Linked DNA regions of Homo sapiens: regions 1 and 3 are each linked to region 2. The links come from fine-mapping of genetic effects on gene expression. A gene starts in region 2. Each other region holds a variant in brackets. All regions are shown on one strand. Distances are from middle to middle.

Region 1 (5,808 bases), 44 kb after region 2:
ATAGAGACTACAAAAAATGTTATGAGGTTATGTGAGGTTATGCATATGTTATTCAGCTCATTTTGGCTACCCTATTATGTACACATATTTCAAAATATTAGGTTGTATATGAAATAGTGTATATACGATATTCTATCAAATAAAATAAATTAACTTTTGATAAAGATCAATAATAATATATTGTTCCAGATTGCCAATCTCTGCAAGGTACAAACATTGTGATATGTTTATAACATAGGAGAATTTGCTTTCAATGCATTGAGACATACAATGCTTCTATAGTATCTCATAGTTATAGAATGAATATTTTATATTAGAAATTATTTTTATAATTGTACATGATCCCAGACATGTAAGCATTTTCTTGATAATATTTATAGCTAAAATTATTATTGATTAAATTAAAATAACATGGAAACAAGTAAATAACTTCAAAAATATTTATCAATAATAGTATTACATTCCTTCCCACAATGCTTAAAACCCATATGACTATACAACTTAATTCAACAAATATTTTTTTTTTTGAAATCGACTAAGTTCAAAATACTCTCTTAAACATTTCCTGAGCTTTAAATATTATTAAGACAGTCTCCACTTTCAAGGAACTTCTGGTTTCTTAGGTATAAAAAGACAAGGGCCCATGCCACTAAATAAAGCAGCATGATGCCAAATGTCGTAAGAGCAGTGTCTTGGCAAGTTGATGCATTGTATCTGGGGAGATCAAGAGCAGCTTAGCTGAGGCTTTAGGGCAATGGTTCTCACCCTGGACTCTACAAGGAAAATCATCTGGGAAACTTGCAAAAATACTGATGACTGGGGTTTTGATTCAACACGTCTGGGGTGTAGCCTGGGCATTAGGGTTTTTAAGAGTTCCCCCAGGTGATTTTTTTTTTCGAGATGGAGTCTCACTCTGTTGCCCAGGCTGAAGTGCAGTGGTGCGATCTCAGCTCACTGCAGCCTCCACCAAGCAGGTTCAAGCAACTCTCCTCCCTCAGCCTGCCAAGTAGCTGGGATTACAGGCACCCGCCACCACACCCGGCTAATTTTTGTATTCTTAGTAGAGACAGGGTTTCACCATGTTGGCCAGGCTGGTCTCAACTCCTGACCTCAAGTGATCCACCTGCCTTGGTCTCCCGTAGTGCTGGGATTACAGGCCTGAGCCACTGTGCCCCGCCCCCTCAGGTGATTCTAATGTGCAAGGAGGTTCTCGGAAAAATTGAAAAATCATCTTAGACTTTGGTTCTGAAGATCGAATGAGATTTTGATAGGCTCAGGTGGGAACTGAGGAGAGGGAAGGAAGGACAGCAGGAAGAGAGCCAGCTGAGCAGCAAAAAGTGAGTTAGTGTGGGAACACTGAAGAGTAGGAGGAAATGGCTGGATCCTTCCAAATGCGGCCCGTGACCTCATACCAAGAGGTATGTAACACCTGAGAACTTGTCAGAAATGCAGACTCTCAAGCCCTGCCCCAGACCTAATGAGTCCGAATCTGTGTCTTAAAAAGACTCACAGGTGATTTGTATGCACGTGGAGGTTGGAGAAGCTTGGGCTTGATCACAGGGTAGCAATAACGACGAAAATCACTGACACACACTCGTATGCAGGTTTACATGTCTTAGCTAAGCCTCATACCAACCCATAAGGAAGTATTCTTTATCATCACCCCATTTTCTAGATGAAGAAATTGAAACTCAGGTTTGTTTGCTCATCTAGAAAGTAATGGAACAGAGATTCAAACCCAGACCCCTAACTGCTACAAAGCACTTGCACTGCATACTTGCACTGTGTCACCACTTTTGTGGTTAAGAGGAAGCCCAGGAGACACCCTGGAATGGAAGAGGAGGGCTCTGATATGTACTCCAGAGGAAATCCTGAGTCCTGGGCTAGGAAGAGCAGGTCTGTGAATGAGGGGGCCCTGTCCTACCCTCCAAGCCAGAGCCCAGAAAAGGCAACCCTATCCCTTTCCACTCGTCATCTCTTGCCTTTCATTCCAGGTTTCTAAACTAAGAGAACTTATCTGTGCCTTAGAAAAAGAGTTCTAGGAAAACAACCAAGAAAGTTAGTAACCCCACAGAAATGGAATACCTAGTCACCAAATTAAAAATAAAACACACACTAAAAAAATGCATTTTAGTATAACATAAAAATAAATATATCTTCCAAATATTTATTTCTTCTTCA[C/T]TTCTTGTTTATTTCCCTACATTCTCCCTCCTCTCTCTCGTAGCCGAAACACAGGTTCAGTGGCCCACTGCTTGCAGAGTCCAGTTAACAAGAGTGTGGTTTGGTATAATTAAAGTGACTTTTTATTCTAAACCTAGCTTACGGGAAGGAGTACAGTACAGGCTTCCCACCTTAAGGATACTGCTTCACTTTTGGAGCAGAAAGCAGGTGCTTTAAAGGGCAGGGGGGTTTGCAGGGGCAGAAGTGACTAGTTAGGGGTTCACATACGCACTTTGGTGCCTTATCTACCGGGCATTGGAGCTGGTGTCTTCATGGGCAGAAATAGGTTGTAAATGTGGCCAAAAGCTCTCCAGGTGAGACAGAGTTTCACAGCAGGCATACTTTGGATTGTAAATTGAGTGTTATCTCTCAAAGCAGTCCCCTGGTGGGGGAGAGTTCTGCTCTGGAGCTTCTAAGCCCATAGTTGGATAAACTTGCCCTGTAGGGAGTGTCTGGTGAAGGGGAGGTAAAAGGTTATAATTGAAGGGGCTAAGTAGGAAGTGGGGAATAGGGAGAAATGGAGAAAAGAGAAGAAAAATAATTAAAAAATAGTAATGCATTCTCCTCTTAGAAAAATTGGAGTATTGGTTACTCTCTCCCCCCGCCCCCCCACACACACGAAACCACCTTTGCAAAATTATAACTGAGGAAATTATGACAGTGAAATAAATCTAACTTAACCAACTCTATTTTGCTTCTAACCCTTAAGCTGTCCTTGTTCATTCCTGGGCATAGGCCGAACTGACTTTGGGAAGGAATTCAGTTCATGGTTTGACTCTGAAACAAAATTGATAACAGCCCTTTCCCAAAAAGACCCCCTTCTTGCCTGGGGACCAGTTTGCCTTTGCAGGACTAACAAATTAGCTACAAGATGAGAAATTACAGTTTCAGGGTCATGCGGCTTCTGGCTTCAAGAGTCCGAACCTCCCCAAATTGCTCCTGGGGGTAACATCATTATTGTAAAACCTAAGATCAGTGCTTGAGACATTTTGTAGACCCTGCACTCAATGGATCAGCTAACCCCACCCAGACCTGTAATCTGGTCCAACCCAGTTGTACCAATGCACTCAGGAACAGAAGACATTAAGAAAACCTAACTCCGACCCATGAAGATTCCATCTCCAACCTGACCAGTCAGCTCTCCCCACTTCCCAAGCCCCTACCCGCCAAACTATCTTTAAAAACTCTGATCCCCAAATGTTCGGGGAGACTGAGTTGAGTAATGATGAATATTCCGTCTCCTGCACAGCCGGCTCTGCGTGAATTACTCTTTCTCCATTGCAGTTCCCCTGTCTTGATAAATCAGTTCTGTCTAGGCAGCAAGAAAGGTGAACCCATTAGGCGGTTGGTTACACACACACACACACACACACACACACACACACACACACATATATACAGAAGGAGGTAAGTACAAAGTTCTAGAAAGAGGAGCAAAAAACAAAGAAAGAGGAGGGAGAGAAACAAAATTATGCTGTGTGCAAATATTTCAAATATGTTAAAATTTTCCTAAAGTTTTCATGGAATTTTTATCTTAAATGGCAAGAGAAAGAAGGAAGAAAGAACAGGAAGAGAATACAAGTTGAGGAATTCCCAAGGGAAAGCAGAAGGAAAGGGAAGCATTACAAACAAACTTTTGGAACCTCATTTTTTGCCTAAGCCAGATGTTTCTGAACGACACAAAACATGACTTGAGAAAAAGTGGCTCTGCCAACCATGGTCATACATCACCAGCACAATGTTAATTCCTGTTCCAAACAGGGGTACTTGAAAGGTCATCCCAGGATAATCTTGGGGATTCCCTAAGAGTATGTGGCCTATGTTGCGTCCAGCTGGTTCTAGATGGTCCAATTCAGATGCATCTGCTTTTCCAGTGGACCATCTAGAACATCCCTTCTTGCTCCCTTCACTCCAGCCAGACTGGCCCAGTGGCCTTAGGTCCTCAGCAGGCCTGAACCTTTTACTTCTGGACTTTGCTTGTCATCCTCCCTGCCTGGTATATCTTCCCCAACGGATTCCTTGTTTTGAATCCTGCTATCTCTGTTAACGCAGTACTAGCCCCATCTCTTCTGTGAAGCCTCTGTGTCCGAATCTTCTGGGAACTCCACCTCCTCTGTGTTAGAACATTAAAAGATGGGACCTAGGCTGGGCACAGTGACTCACACCTGTAATCCCAGCACTTTGGGAGGCTGAGGTGGGTAGATCACCTGAAATCAGGAGTTCGAGACCAGCCTGGCCAATATGGTGAAACCCCATCTCTACTAAAAATACAAAAAAATTAGCTGGGTGTGGTGGTAGGTGCCTGTAATTCCAGCTACTCTGGAGGTTGATGCAGGAGAATCACTTGAACCTGGGAGGCGGAGGTTGCAGTGAGCTGAGATCGTGCCATTGCGCTCCAGCCTGGGCAATAAGAGCAAAACTCCATCTCAAAAACAAACAAACAAACAAACAAAAAAGATGGGACCTTTACTCTGTCCTGTTCAGTTTCTTTTTATATGGATATGTTCTGACCAACTCTCAAATGCCTGATGGAATGAACTGGGTAATTGGGATGTTAGGCAAGTTGCTTAGCTTTCTTGTCTGTAAATTGGGAATAATAATACAACACACTTATAAGATTGTAAAGATCTAATGAGTTCCTGTAAGTAAAGTTCTTAATACAGTGCCAGGCATGTAGTAAAAGCTATCTGTGTTATTTATGAGTTTACCTTTGGGACATTGTTGAACCAAACCTTAACTGATGTTAAATATTGTTGCAGAAACAGGACAGAGGCTCCAAAGCATCTTTGTAGGTGCCTTTAACAAGCATTGCAAAGCTATCCTACATTATAAAGTACAATCATCCATGAAATGATGTACATATTATATATGCACAGTGTAAAGAATACAAAATAGGCTGGGCATGGTGGCTCATACCTGTAATCCCAGCACTTTGGGATGCCAACGCAGGCAGATCACCTGAGGTCAGAAGTTCAAGACCAGCCTGGCCAACATGGTGAAACCCCATCTCTACTAAAAATAAAAAATTAGCCAAGTGTGGTGGCACGCACCTGTAGTCCCAGCTACTCAGGAGGCTGAGACAGGAGAATTGTTTGAACCTGGGAGGCGGAGGTTGCAGAGAGCCGAGACCGAACCACTGCACACCAGCCTGGGTGACAGAGTGAGACTCCATCTCAAAAAGAAAAAAAGAATGCAAAATAAACACCCAAGTACACATGTACACAGCACGCATGCAAGCATGCACGCAGGTGCACACATATGCGTTAAGATAAAGAACATAAGCAGTATAACTCCAGTGTAATCTACCACAACTGCATTCCCTTCTCACAGCCACCCCACCACCAAATGCAATTCAGACTTTTATGTTACCTATTTTCTTATTTTTCTTTGCCGTGTCTCCCCATAAATACTTATTCCCAAACAAACAAAAATATATATACATATATTAGTTTCACCTGTTTGGGGGGAACTCTATATAAATGGAATCATACTGCATGCATTTGTTGTGACTTACTTTTTCAGTGTACGTGTGTTCGTTTTCATCTTCCATGTTAGTTATAAAGCTGTAGTTTTTTTGTTTTTGTTTTT
Region 2 (5,808 bases):
TTTTTTAACAATCAAGCCTTCCAGTTAATTAACACCACCTGTTTGTTTGACAGGTGAGCCTGTCAAACATTGTTCTAAATGTGGCAGGTGGGGAATAGGTGGTTAAATGTGGCTTTTAGATAAGCAACTTCTCAGAGTTTTAAGTACCAGGTGCATACGAATCACCTGGAGATCTTGGTGAATGTGGGATCTGATTCAGTGGATCCAGAGTGAGACCAGAGACTCTACATTTCCAGCAAGCTCCCAGGGAGGCCAATGCTGCTGGTCCCAAGGGATGCCAAGGCAAGGTTCTAGAGGCCTTGGAAGTGTATTAACCTCAAGGGAGTTCATAGGCTATGCTTGCCTCCAGCCATTTTAGTACTGAGCTCAGAAGAGCATCTCTACCACGTGCCACCATTTCTCATCAGGGCCACCTATTTTCCTTTGTACAAAAAAAAAAAAAGAATCAAATTTCACTATGTGACTACTGTGTGAAGATTCTGCACAAAGGGTTTTTGCTATCTCATTAGATTCCAACAACTCCCTGAGGTGGGTATGGTGAGTATGTCTATTTTATAGAAGGAAGACTCCAGCCCAGAGAGGTTAGGTCACACTAGTAAGTATGGAAAGGATTCAAAACTCCAGAGTCTACTCCAGAGGTCAAGCTCTCCAGCATTGCCTCTTTCTTGCTGTATTTACATCACAAGTTTCTTTCCAGCTCTGTATCTGCAACAGAAATGACTTGCAGTTGACTATTACTTCCTGTTCCAAAATTGATAAAACCAAGTCTAGTCCTCCAACAAAATGACTTGGTTTCAGGAAAAGGCAATTAAAATTCAAATTGAGGAATCTTCTGGAATTTGGCAAAGAGAAGCATTTAACATTAGCATTGAGATTTTTTTGTTTGTACTTTTTAAAATTAAATACTGTCAGTTTGTGAAACATAATCATGTGACTCTCAGAACTCTTGGACACTGTCACCTCATCAACAGAACACCTACCGTTTCATTCCACAAGAGTGGCAGAAGTTTCCAGAAGAACCTTCCCTACCAATGGAAAGAAGCTACTGCATACCACACAGCAACATCTGCGATATGGTCATAAATTCCGCAGTGTTCCCAAGTTGTAATGAAGAGTTTAATATATGTGCTTTTTATTATTCTACTAAGAATATATCCTAATTCAACATGTGCGTGAAATTTTCACATGTTCGTGAAAACAGGAGCTCTCATACTTGATTGTGCATGGGAATGTACAGGAAATTTTAAAACAGCTAGAGAGTCTGATAAAATTGGCTTGGAATGGTCTGGGTAGCAACATTGTTTTATCCTCCCAAAGATTCTAATGCACAACGATAGTTGAGAATCACTGGCATAAAAGACAGAAAGAAGACTGTAAGATTCATGCTATAGTCAAAATAAAAAGAATGGGAGGAGTGTCTTCATTCACTGTTAGGGTTTTGCCTACCTGCATGGCTACAAAGTTCTAAGATACCAATAGATCCCAAATTTAACTGCAAGCAAGTGGTTCCCTAAAATCAGTGACCAACTGCATGATCATACTTGGTGTCTGAAGCCAATTGCAGCAAATATCAGCAACACTGTTCCAAAGCAAAGATTCTTAACCTGAGGATGGAATTCAGGTGATCTGTATAGGAAACTCACATAGGAAAATAAGTTGCATCTTTACTTTTAGTAACATGTCACAGAAGTTCAACATGTCCTTCCCTTATGAGCACAGGCAACAGAGCACAGTAGTATTGGCAGTTCTTGATAATTTGCACCCACCGGTATTTTCATGTCACATTTCAGTTTGGGCTATTATCTCAAAATACCATTTGCAGACATCACTACTTTGACATTACTGTTGCTTAATCGGCCTGCTGTTAAATCAAGCTATTTAATGCAATAATGATGATGCACCTGTGTTAGTTACTATATCACGACTTGAGGACTTCCATAATTGCATTCCAATAAAACTGATTCTGATTTAATTGTATTTTATGCATTTCACAACATTCTTCTGAGAAACAGTCTAATTGCTTTACCAGAGCCAGTGTGGTCCGTAGCACAGGAAACGGCGAGAGCCGGCTGGAGGACCGTGCCCTGGCACATTTGCATCGCAGGCCACCCCCAGGAAGAGCGCACCCTGACCAGAGCTGAGTCTTGTTTTGCCCTGCATTTCCGCAGATAAGATTTGGCCTGAAAAGCAGTTCAACTCAGCGGAGAATAAGATGGGCTTTCTCTTTCTCCTCAGCTGCCTCTTTCTCTTGGCATTTTGGAGTGCCCCGACTGCCAGGCCGGTAACTCGAGCCTCCAAATTAATCAAAACACACAGCACCCAGTTAAAGCCCAGGCAGACAAGCCCAGGAGCCAGACGCGCTCTCCTCTGGTGACCCCCGGGCCACAACTCCCCAGCTGGGCCCGCCACCACCCCTTGAATGCCACGCTCCCTCCACTGCCCCTCCCAGGCAGGTGCCGGGGCCCCGGGACAGCGGTTGCCCCACCTATGGGCGCCTTACCTGTGGGGACGCCCGCAGCGCCAGGAGCTGCCGCCTTGCCACCCCACGGGACGCGCACCTCCAGCCCCAATCCACCCGCGCCCCGCTGCCTCTTCGCGGCGCTCTCGCAGCCAAGCCCGGCGGCCGCAAGTTGGAGGCGGGCTGGAGGCGGGGAACGCGGACCGCCGCGGGCGCGGGGAACAAGCGGGGCCTCCCGAGTGCAGACGCCCGGCGCGCCTCCCGCTTAATCTGGGCAGGGCCGCTGGCCACTCCCTCCACCCTGCGCAGCCACCTCCCCACCGCGCAGCCACCTCCCCACCGCACACCCCCAAACGCCCCACCTCCGACCGCACCCCACTTCCCCGCCTGGGCCCCCGGACCTTGGGAGCATCACCTCCTTAACCCCTTACCCTGGATCCGCGCCCACCTGCCCCTCAGGCGCCCAGCCCTTTCTCGCCTCCTGGGCACGATGCCCGGGTAGAAGGGACACTGCCTGGTAAGTTGGGAGGGAGGGGGTATGAGGGCGGGACCTGAGCCACGTCTTCCCTCCCTTGAAGCCACAACCAAAAAGCCTGGGTGGGGAGGGACGAACCGCGCGACCGAGCCCTACAAAACCCGCCCCGGCCGAGTGGCGAGGCGAGCTTTCCAGCCGGGCTCCCAGAGCCGCGCTGCGCAGGAGACGCGGTGGCCTGAGAGCCTGAGGGTCCCCGGACTCGCCCAGGCTCTGAGCGCGCGCCCACCATGAGCGCCCGGACCGCCCCCAGGCCGCAGGTGCTCCTGCTGCCGCTCCTGCTGGTGCTCCTGGCGGCGGCGCCCGCAGCCAGCAAGGTGAGTGGGGGCTGCGCGACCCCCACCCCCGCACTTCCATCCCTCCTCCACGCGTCCGGGGGACGCGCTGGCCCCACCCGCAGCGGCGCGGTAGTGGAGCGGCTGCCGGGCTAGTGGCGAGGCTGAGGGCTTCACGCAGGTCCCGGGACAGGCAGCGAGCGGAAGGGAGCAAGCGGGGATGCCCCGGAACAGGTGGAATGCGCGGGGCTGGGGGAAGAGGCGAGGAGGGGGCTTGTCCAGTGCCTAGGAGTCAGGGATGGCGGGGACAGGCCTCCAGAGGTCAGTAAATTAAAAAATAGACACATAGATAATCGCCAGGGATGATACGTGAGAACACCGGATGTGGAGATGCACGGTGTCACGCTGGTGAATCAAATCAAGCAGCTTGGCCCAGCGCACAGAGGGCTGGCAGGAGACACCTGCAGGGAGTCCCAGCCGCCACTTCCTAGCTGGGACGTCACACTAAACCCTGACCTCTCTGGGGCTCAGTTTCTTCCTTGCAAAACTTGCCCTCCAGTTTTCCTTTGCTATTGTTGGGAAAAGCAAATGCTATCACTGAAAAATTAAGAGCACCTTAGAAATCGAACTCAGGTTAGAATCATTTAAGCAATCTGACACTTTGATTTGATTTTTGACTTGGAATTTGAGTGAAACTGGATTTATTTAAATCCATCCCATATTTCTTATTCTTTGCCATTAAATAGAAATTGATTGTCCTCAAAACGATTGTGCCTCCTAGAGTTGACTCACTTGATTTTACCTTGTGAAAGTAAACTTTAACTTTTCAGATACTTGTTATTTTTACACTTTAAAAAGTTGATTTGGGTGATAACGTGGCATAGGAAATTTCATTTCCAAGGATGAGCAGATGTTTTTACAAATGTTATCATTGAGATTATGATTGGAAATTAACGGTCACATAAATATTTATATATGTTACATGAAAAGAATTTTAGAACCTATGGTCACATATAGGTTCTATATGTTTTTCCTATTTAAATTAAATGAAGACATTGCAGACATTATAGGTGAAACTAAAGCCCTCTCTGACACCCCCCATACCTCTCCCCATTTCCTTGTCTTCCAAGAGGTGTCCACTTTCACCACTTTCATATTTCATGTAGTTTTCCAAACATTGTCCATGAATTTACACACACACATATGAACCCACAAACATATATGTATGTTTTTGTTGGCCTTTTAACATAAATGATACTGTGCTGTATTCCTTTGCAACCTGTAGACCAGTCCATGTCAGTATTTAAGATCCTCCTGTTTTTCTTTTTGCTTTGTTGCACAGTATTTCACAATATGCCAAAGTTAATTGAACCATTTCCCTATCAGTTTACATTTAGATTATTCACTGTTTCACATTCTAAAGGACATTTGTAATCTATGTAATCTGTTTGTGTAGCTGGTTCTAACAAAAATGCACTTTGCATACATTAGGAATTCCCAGACCAGGTATTTAAATGCTACTAGGCATGATAGATAAAACTCAGTGGGGATTATCTACCAGCTTTAACCAGGACAAATAAATCCAAAAAAGCAAAATCCTAAAGGAAATGTGTGTTGTGGGGAAGCCTGGAGAAGAGATCCAGAGCAGGGTTTGCACATGTTTCTGAATTTAGAAGAACAGGAATGAGATTGGGAAGGGGTGGAAGAATTGTACTTATGTGAGGATCAGCCTGAAAAAGTAATGCTTGGGGACCATGCAAACTCTAGTTATACCATTTTCAATTCTGTTGTTACATTCCTTTGTTATTTTTACATGTAAACTTTTCTGTTTTGAGTTTGGCCAAATCTTGGTGACTTCTTGCTGAAATTAATCCATTTGTATTGTTTTTCTCATCACTTGAAGTAAGTCTTTCATTAACAAGTTTTCAGGATTATCATTTCCAGTGTACCTGCTGGGTTAGAGAGAAAATATGCCAGTAAAATAATGAAATGTGCCTTCATCTTGTAGAAAAAGGAATCACAACGTTCACTGATAATCGGGCAATGTGCACCAACATGGCTCCCTTCACAGAGAAACTCTGCTGTTGGGCAAGGCTGTTGACCACTCTGAGCCTCAGTTTTCTCATGTGTAAAATGAGAGTTGAAACCCCAGTGGGGCCAGCAGGTGAAGTAAGGAGTAAGGCAATGGGGTAAGAGAGACTCTTCAGAACCTAGTTGTTAGCATGCTAGAATTCAAGCCCAATTGTGCCAGCATCACTTCAAGAGAGAAGTTGGGAATCCAGTTTTTATTAGAAACTTCTCAAATTCTAAATATTAGCAACTAAGCCAAAACTTTACAAAAACATAGTGTGGGCCAAACAATGTATAAGTGAGAGCTAAATGTAACTTTGGAGCCATTATATTTTATTATTTTTGTTCTACTCCAGTTAAGGATGTGTTTCGCTCCAATTTATTCAGTTTTACTTTAGCATTTCTCAAAACAGGGAAATAGCAGCGGTGTTGACTCTACATGCTAAGTTTGTTTAGACGGGGTGGAACTGTCC
Region 3 (5,808 bases), 37 kb after region 2:
GATATTCCATATTTATGAAAAATCCTCTTTTATTTATTTAAATTTTGACCATTAAAAATCATTTTGATTTTGTATTGAAGGCAATGGGGAAGCAGTATAGGGTTTTTAGCAGGGAATCAACAGAGATTTGTACTTAAGAAGATCCTTTTAGAGGCAGGATGAAGTGAAGGATGGCTGGAAAGGGAGGTGAATGAATTAGAAATGGCAGCAACTGAGATGGCCCTGCGGAGTCACAGGAATTAGGGCAAGGGACGTGGGACTTATTTTCCAGTGCAGAGTAACAGCTGTTCTCACTCCTAAGGACAGATTAGGAGCAAACTGAATTGAGGAATGAAAAAATTCAGGTTAGGCTCAGAGGAACATATTACCAGTAAGTCAAGGTTGGTAAGCATGGCAAGGGGCCTTTGAGTGAGATGTTTATCACAAGAAAAATTCCACTTTCTTCCGGAGGATTTACCTGTGTAATTGCAACCTCAGTAGTTTTATAGCAGAGTTAGTCATGAATTTCCTTGTCTATTTCACCCCCATTCCTCCCCCAGGATTGGGTCATTTCTATCTCTGATACTACTTGGCAATCTTTACCTCTGAAAATTCTTGCCCCTGGCATACTATCATCCTAGAAAATAAGTATTTTAGAGATTTAAATATAACCAGGTAATCAATGCCCTGTTGTAGTTCACTTCGGCTCATTCAGTCTGCAACTAAGACTGGATCAAACAGACCTAAGGGATTTGTCTCTAATCTGAAGCATTCCAAAGAGATTGATTTGAAATTTTCCTAAAGTCCCTGAAAGTCTTCAGCTTGAGAAATGACCCAAGGTCAGGATTAATCCCTTACTTTAGTGTTTCTGCATTGTCGTCCATAACCCACAGGCATCGGAATCACCTAAGATCTTAAATATTGAGATTCTTGGGCCCAGCCCAGACTAAACATTCATATCTGTGGCCCCAGCCCCAATTCAGTGAATCAGAATGAAGACAGGTTGTTGGGAGAAGGGCAAGTTCAGAAGGGTTTGTGCTTTTAACATGCATAGTTCTTGTGCATATAAAAATGTAAAAACAAACAAACAAACAAAAAACTAGTCCGAAGGATGGATCGTGCCTCCCAATGTTAATAGGAAGGCTGCAGCAAGAGCTTATCTTTATATATGTTAACTCATAAATTATATTGCATGTTTACTCACAGTCTAGAAGGTACCACATTCTGTAGACATGTATGGTTTGACCTAATCACAGAAAGCTAGAAGTAGGAAAAAACATAGAGATAGCTTTGTCCAATCTAAGAAAACTGAAGACCAGAAAGACTGAAGCTTTTCCCAGGTGCACAGCTGAATGCTAGCAGAGCCTGACTGTCACCCCACCATCTTATGATATTTCTTTTTGTGATCTCGATGTAGATGGAAAAGAACAGGAACGAAGTTTGTATCTTTACATAGTGTGTATGTGTAGATACAATTCGAAGAAGGGACTTTTTTCCTTTAATCTACACTGATTTTCCATTAGAACATTCTTGAACATCCACTGTATTCACAAAGTTTTTCCTGGGTGCCAGCAACCCAAAGCACCACACTCTTCCCCATCATCCCACGTCATGCTGGTTCTACACAGAGTTTCAACTCTTGATTGTTCAATTATTGGCTCTCATCTCACTTCTGTTCTGCATAAGGCCAGCCCACACAAATTTTCCATTGTCCCAAGTACAGCCATAGCACATAGTCGATGCCTAAAGAATGCATATAGATGTAATAGTTGCCCTATTTTAGAAAACAAGGAAGGCGCTGGTGCATGTTTCTAGTGTGCATTGGAGGCAGGACTCAAAAATCTGCTCAGACTCACAAAGCCATTCATAGCTGACTCTTCAGCAGTACAAGCAGGGCTAAAATGTTTTGGGTCTCAATTGCAAATTCTAGAAACTTATGCACAGACTCCAAAAGCAAGCATCTTAGTTCTCTGTGATTTGTACTTGTAAACTTGTTTCTGTCATAAGTAACATGATGTTAATTTACATTAAAGTTTATGGCTTCATTTACATGTTCAATTGCATGTACAATTACAATTGAACAATTACATGTTCAATTACAATGAAATGTTCAATTACAAATGTCAGATCTCCTCAACTCTCTGCTTATGTTTTGTTTGGTTTTGCTTTGCATTTATTCCAAAATGTTATTATGAAAATGTTTAAACATTCAAGAACATGGGAAGAAGTGTTCTTCTTAAATTAAGTTTAGATTAGAAATTATATTATTCACATTTAATTTTAATGTAATAATGACATGCCTTAAGTATCTTTAAAAAGTTTTGTGTTAACAAATACATTTATTCTTATTAGGTTATGTTACCTTAATGACTCTCTTTTTACAGCTAATCAGCTCAAGAAGAAAGAATCAAGATAGTAAAAGCTGGACAGTATTTACTTAGCATCTGTGTAAAAAGCAAGAGGAGATTTTCTGTGAGAAAAACGGTCTTATTTACAAGTTCATGAATAGTTTTGAAACTTTTCCACTAAGGAGGAAAAAAAAATTCCTCTGTTGTTAAAATGTTAACAGTAGTTTAATAGGAGTTGACATAGTTAGGTGGAATCAAAAAGCAAAATGCAAAAGCCCAACACATGTTGGGTAGAAAAGGCAAATTTGTCACATCCCAGGCTTACATTGTATTTGCCACTGTCGTCTCAGTCAAAGGTTTTTGTTAAGGTCTGAAGACGCAGAAAGAAGAATAGTAGCACTGTATCCGTTTCCAGTTGACGTTAGAAGAATAGTAGCAATGTATCCGTTTCCAGTTGACCTTATTTCAATAGACTGTGAAATCCAAGGTGTGGGGTCGTGTGTTTAGAGAAACAAGTAGTTCATTCTAAAAACTGAGAAATACCTGATGTCACTATAGACACCAATCAGAAACTACCAAATCCTTTTCAACTGTAAAACAGAAAGGATTCTGAATGGAACGAGAGATTTAAAACCATCTATGGGACTCAAGCATTGCAACTGTATGTGTTTCTCCTATTGAAATTAATTACTCTTGTCTATTGGAAATGGATAGCCAGATTAATTTTTTTCTAAGCACCTCCTGATCCCAAATGAAGCACTGGTCTAGTTTGCCATTACTTGTTTTGATGTATTTTTCAAACACCATGGAATGATGTATTATTAACTAAAGTATTAAATGGAAACTATAGCACACTTTAAATACCAACCTTTAACCATTAACCTGAATGCTGGTAAAAGGACTTCAAATGATTTTCCAGTACACTAAGCCCTGTTTAGCAGTTTGATTTCACGATTGGTTAGCAACACAAAAATCCAGGTGCAGAATTCCCTTCCAGAATATATTCTTGCTATTTTATACTATTAAGTACGGGTTCATTAGAACTTGATGTTTTGAATGTGTTGTAACATTGTAGGGTGTCAATATTAGAGCACACCAGTTCTAGCTTGCCTGTGGTATGCAATTCACCTGTATTCGGAGAGCTATGTAATTTACACTTGTCTGTATTTTCCTTGTGGCTGTCCCCATGCCTTTTTTCATGTTTCATTGTTCTTCCTAACAAATGTTACCATTTCCAACTATAGGTGTTTCTTGAAGCCCTAAATAA[T/A]CATGCCTGTCTTATTTTAGTATCCAAAGTTTACTAACTGGAGTGAACTGATAATGCTGGTATGCGGGTATTTTTTTAAAATATATTAATACTAGCCGGGCGCGGTGGCTCTCTCCTGTAATCCCAGCACTTTGGGAGGCCGAGGCGGGCGGATCACTAGGTCAGGAGATCGAGACCATCTTGGCTAACACGGTGAAACCCCGTCTCTACAAAAAATTAGCCGGGCGCGGTGGCGGGCACCTGTAGTCCCAGCTACTCGGGAGGCTGAGGCAGGAGAATGGTGTGAACCCGGGAGGCAGAGCTTGCAGTGAGCCGAGATAGCGCCACTGCAGTCCGGCCTGGGAGAAAGTGCGAGAATCCGTCTCTAAAAAAAAAAAATATATATATATATATATATATATATCACATATATATACACATGTGTATATATATAATATGTGTATATATACATATATGTGTATCTATGTGTATATATACATATGTGTATATATACATATATGTGTATATATACATATGTGTATATATGTGTATATATGTGTATATATACATATATGTGTATATATGTGTATATATGTGTATATATACATATATGTGTATATATGTGTATATATACATATGTGTATATATGTGTATATATACATATATGTGTATATATGTGTATATATACATATATGTGTATATATGTGTATATATACATATATGTGTATATATGTGTATATATGTGTATATATACATATATGTGTATATATGTGTATATATACATATATGTGTATATATGTGTATATATACATATATGTGTATATATGTGTATATGTGTGTATATATACATATATGTGTATATACACACATATATGTGTATATATGTGTATATATACATATATGTATATATACATATATGTGTATATATGTGTATATATACATATATGTGTATATATGTGTATATATACATATATGTGTATACATACATATATGTGTATATATGTGTATATATACATATATGTGTATACATACATATATGTGTATATATGTGTATACATACATATATGTGTATACATACATATATGTGTGTATATGTGTATACATACATATATGTGTGTATATATGTGTATACATATGTGTGTATATGTGTATATATACATATATGTGTGTATATATGTGTATATATACATATATGTGTGTATATATGTGTATATATACATATATGTGTGTATATATGTGTATATATACATATATGTGTGTATATATGTGTATATATACATATATGTGTGTATATATGTGTATATATACATATATGTGTGTATATATGTGTATATATACATATATGTGTGTATATATGTGTATATATACATATATGTGTGTATATATGTGTATATATACATATATGTGTGTATATATGTGTATATATACATATATGTGTGTATATATATACACTACAGTAGCAAAGTCATTTATTATCTCCTAGTTTTATTTTCAGCAATAATATTCCAAAAATATTTGCCACATATCAAGCCCATTCCCCTAAAATATAAGCCTCTTAAGCATGAGAATTTTGTCTAATGTCAATTGCTGGATTCCCAGCTCCCAGACCAGTACCAGGGCTTAATAAATATTCATTGACTAACATTCAGCCTAGATAGAACCTGAGGATGCAGAAGTGGAAAAAATGGTAAGAACCTTTATAGTATGGTGCTGACATTAAATGAACAGCACTAATATTAAGTGGCATCTTAATAATTCGTAGTAGACCTAAATTACCTGGATTCAACTCCAAGAATCCAAGATCCACCATTTACTAGCCGGGTGACTTTAAGAAAATTACCTAGTCTTTCTGTGCCTCAATTTTCTCATTTGTAATATGCAATAAGGATTAAATAAGTTATTAGAAATAATGTACTTAGAACAATGTCTGTCACATGAGCATTCAATAAATCTAAGCTGCTACTTTTAGCTGCCACCTGGTACTGCTTCTATTGCTCTTTTCTTCATTTCCTTCTATTTTTTTCTCTTTCTCTATCTTATGTTCTCACTATTTTTTCTTCTCTTTTTAGGCTTCACACTTATCCTTTACTATAGTTCTGCCAGTGACTCTCACAAACATTGCTTAAACTTTCTGATGATGCTCAGGGTTAGACTCCACCATATACGAAGGGACCCGTGCAAATGATGGCTGAAGCAGGACAGATTGTCTGGGATTCTAAAGACAGGCTAACAGAA

Direction of the effects. Positions count from the first base shown, and alleles are read on the strand shown. Sizes are in standard deviations (SD) of each study's normalised expression. Not every link is listed here.
As copies of T replace C in region 1, the expression in pituitary of the gene that starts at base 3,118 in region 2 goes down (small effect, 0.32 SD a copy in GTEx).

The links. PIP is the estimated chance that this variant, and not a neighbour inherited with it, causes the effect.
Region 1: its variant is the best candidate, but not a certain one, in a credible set for the expression of COL4A3 in pituitary (GTEx, PIP 0.78).
Region 3: its variant is the best candidate, but not a certain one, in a credible set for the expression of COL4A3 in pancreas (GTEx, PIP 0.69).

The regions. Positions count from the first base shown.
Region 1 is chr2:227,205,195-227,211,002 of GRCh38, forward strand. All of the region lies in intron 1 of COL4A3 (collagen type IV alpha 3 chain), which reads left to right. Among named protein-coding and RNA genes, the nearest start is that of COL4A3, 43 kb to the left of the region's middle. The variant C/T (reference allele first, on the strand shown) is at 2,182.
Region 2 is chr2:227,161,507-227,167,314 of GRCh38, forward strand. It overlaps COL4A3 (collagen type IV alpha 3 chain), which reads left to right and starts at 3,118. Exons shown (of 52, transcript NM_000091.5): 1 at 3,118-3,307. The coding sequence starts at 3,221. COL4A4 (collagen type IV alpha 4 chain) reads right to left here and starts at 2,699. Exons shown (of 48, transcript NM_000092.5): 1 at 2,501-2,699. RefSeq lists enhancers at 2,026-2,927, 2,202-2,301 and silencers at 2,572-2,951, 3,172-3,351.
Region 3 is chr2:227,198,776-227,204,583 of GRCh38, forward strand. The region is part of intron 1 of COL4A3 (collagen type IV alpha 3 chain); the gene reads left to right. Among named protein-coding and RNA genes, the nearest start is that of COL4A3, 37 kb to the left of the region's middle. The variant T/A (reference allele first, on the strand shown) is at 3,595.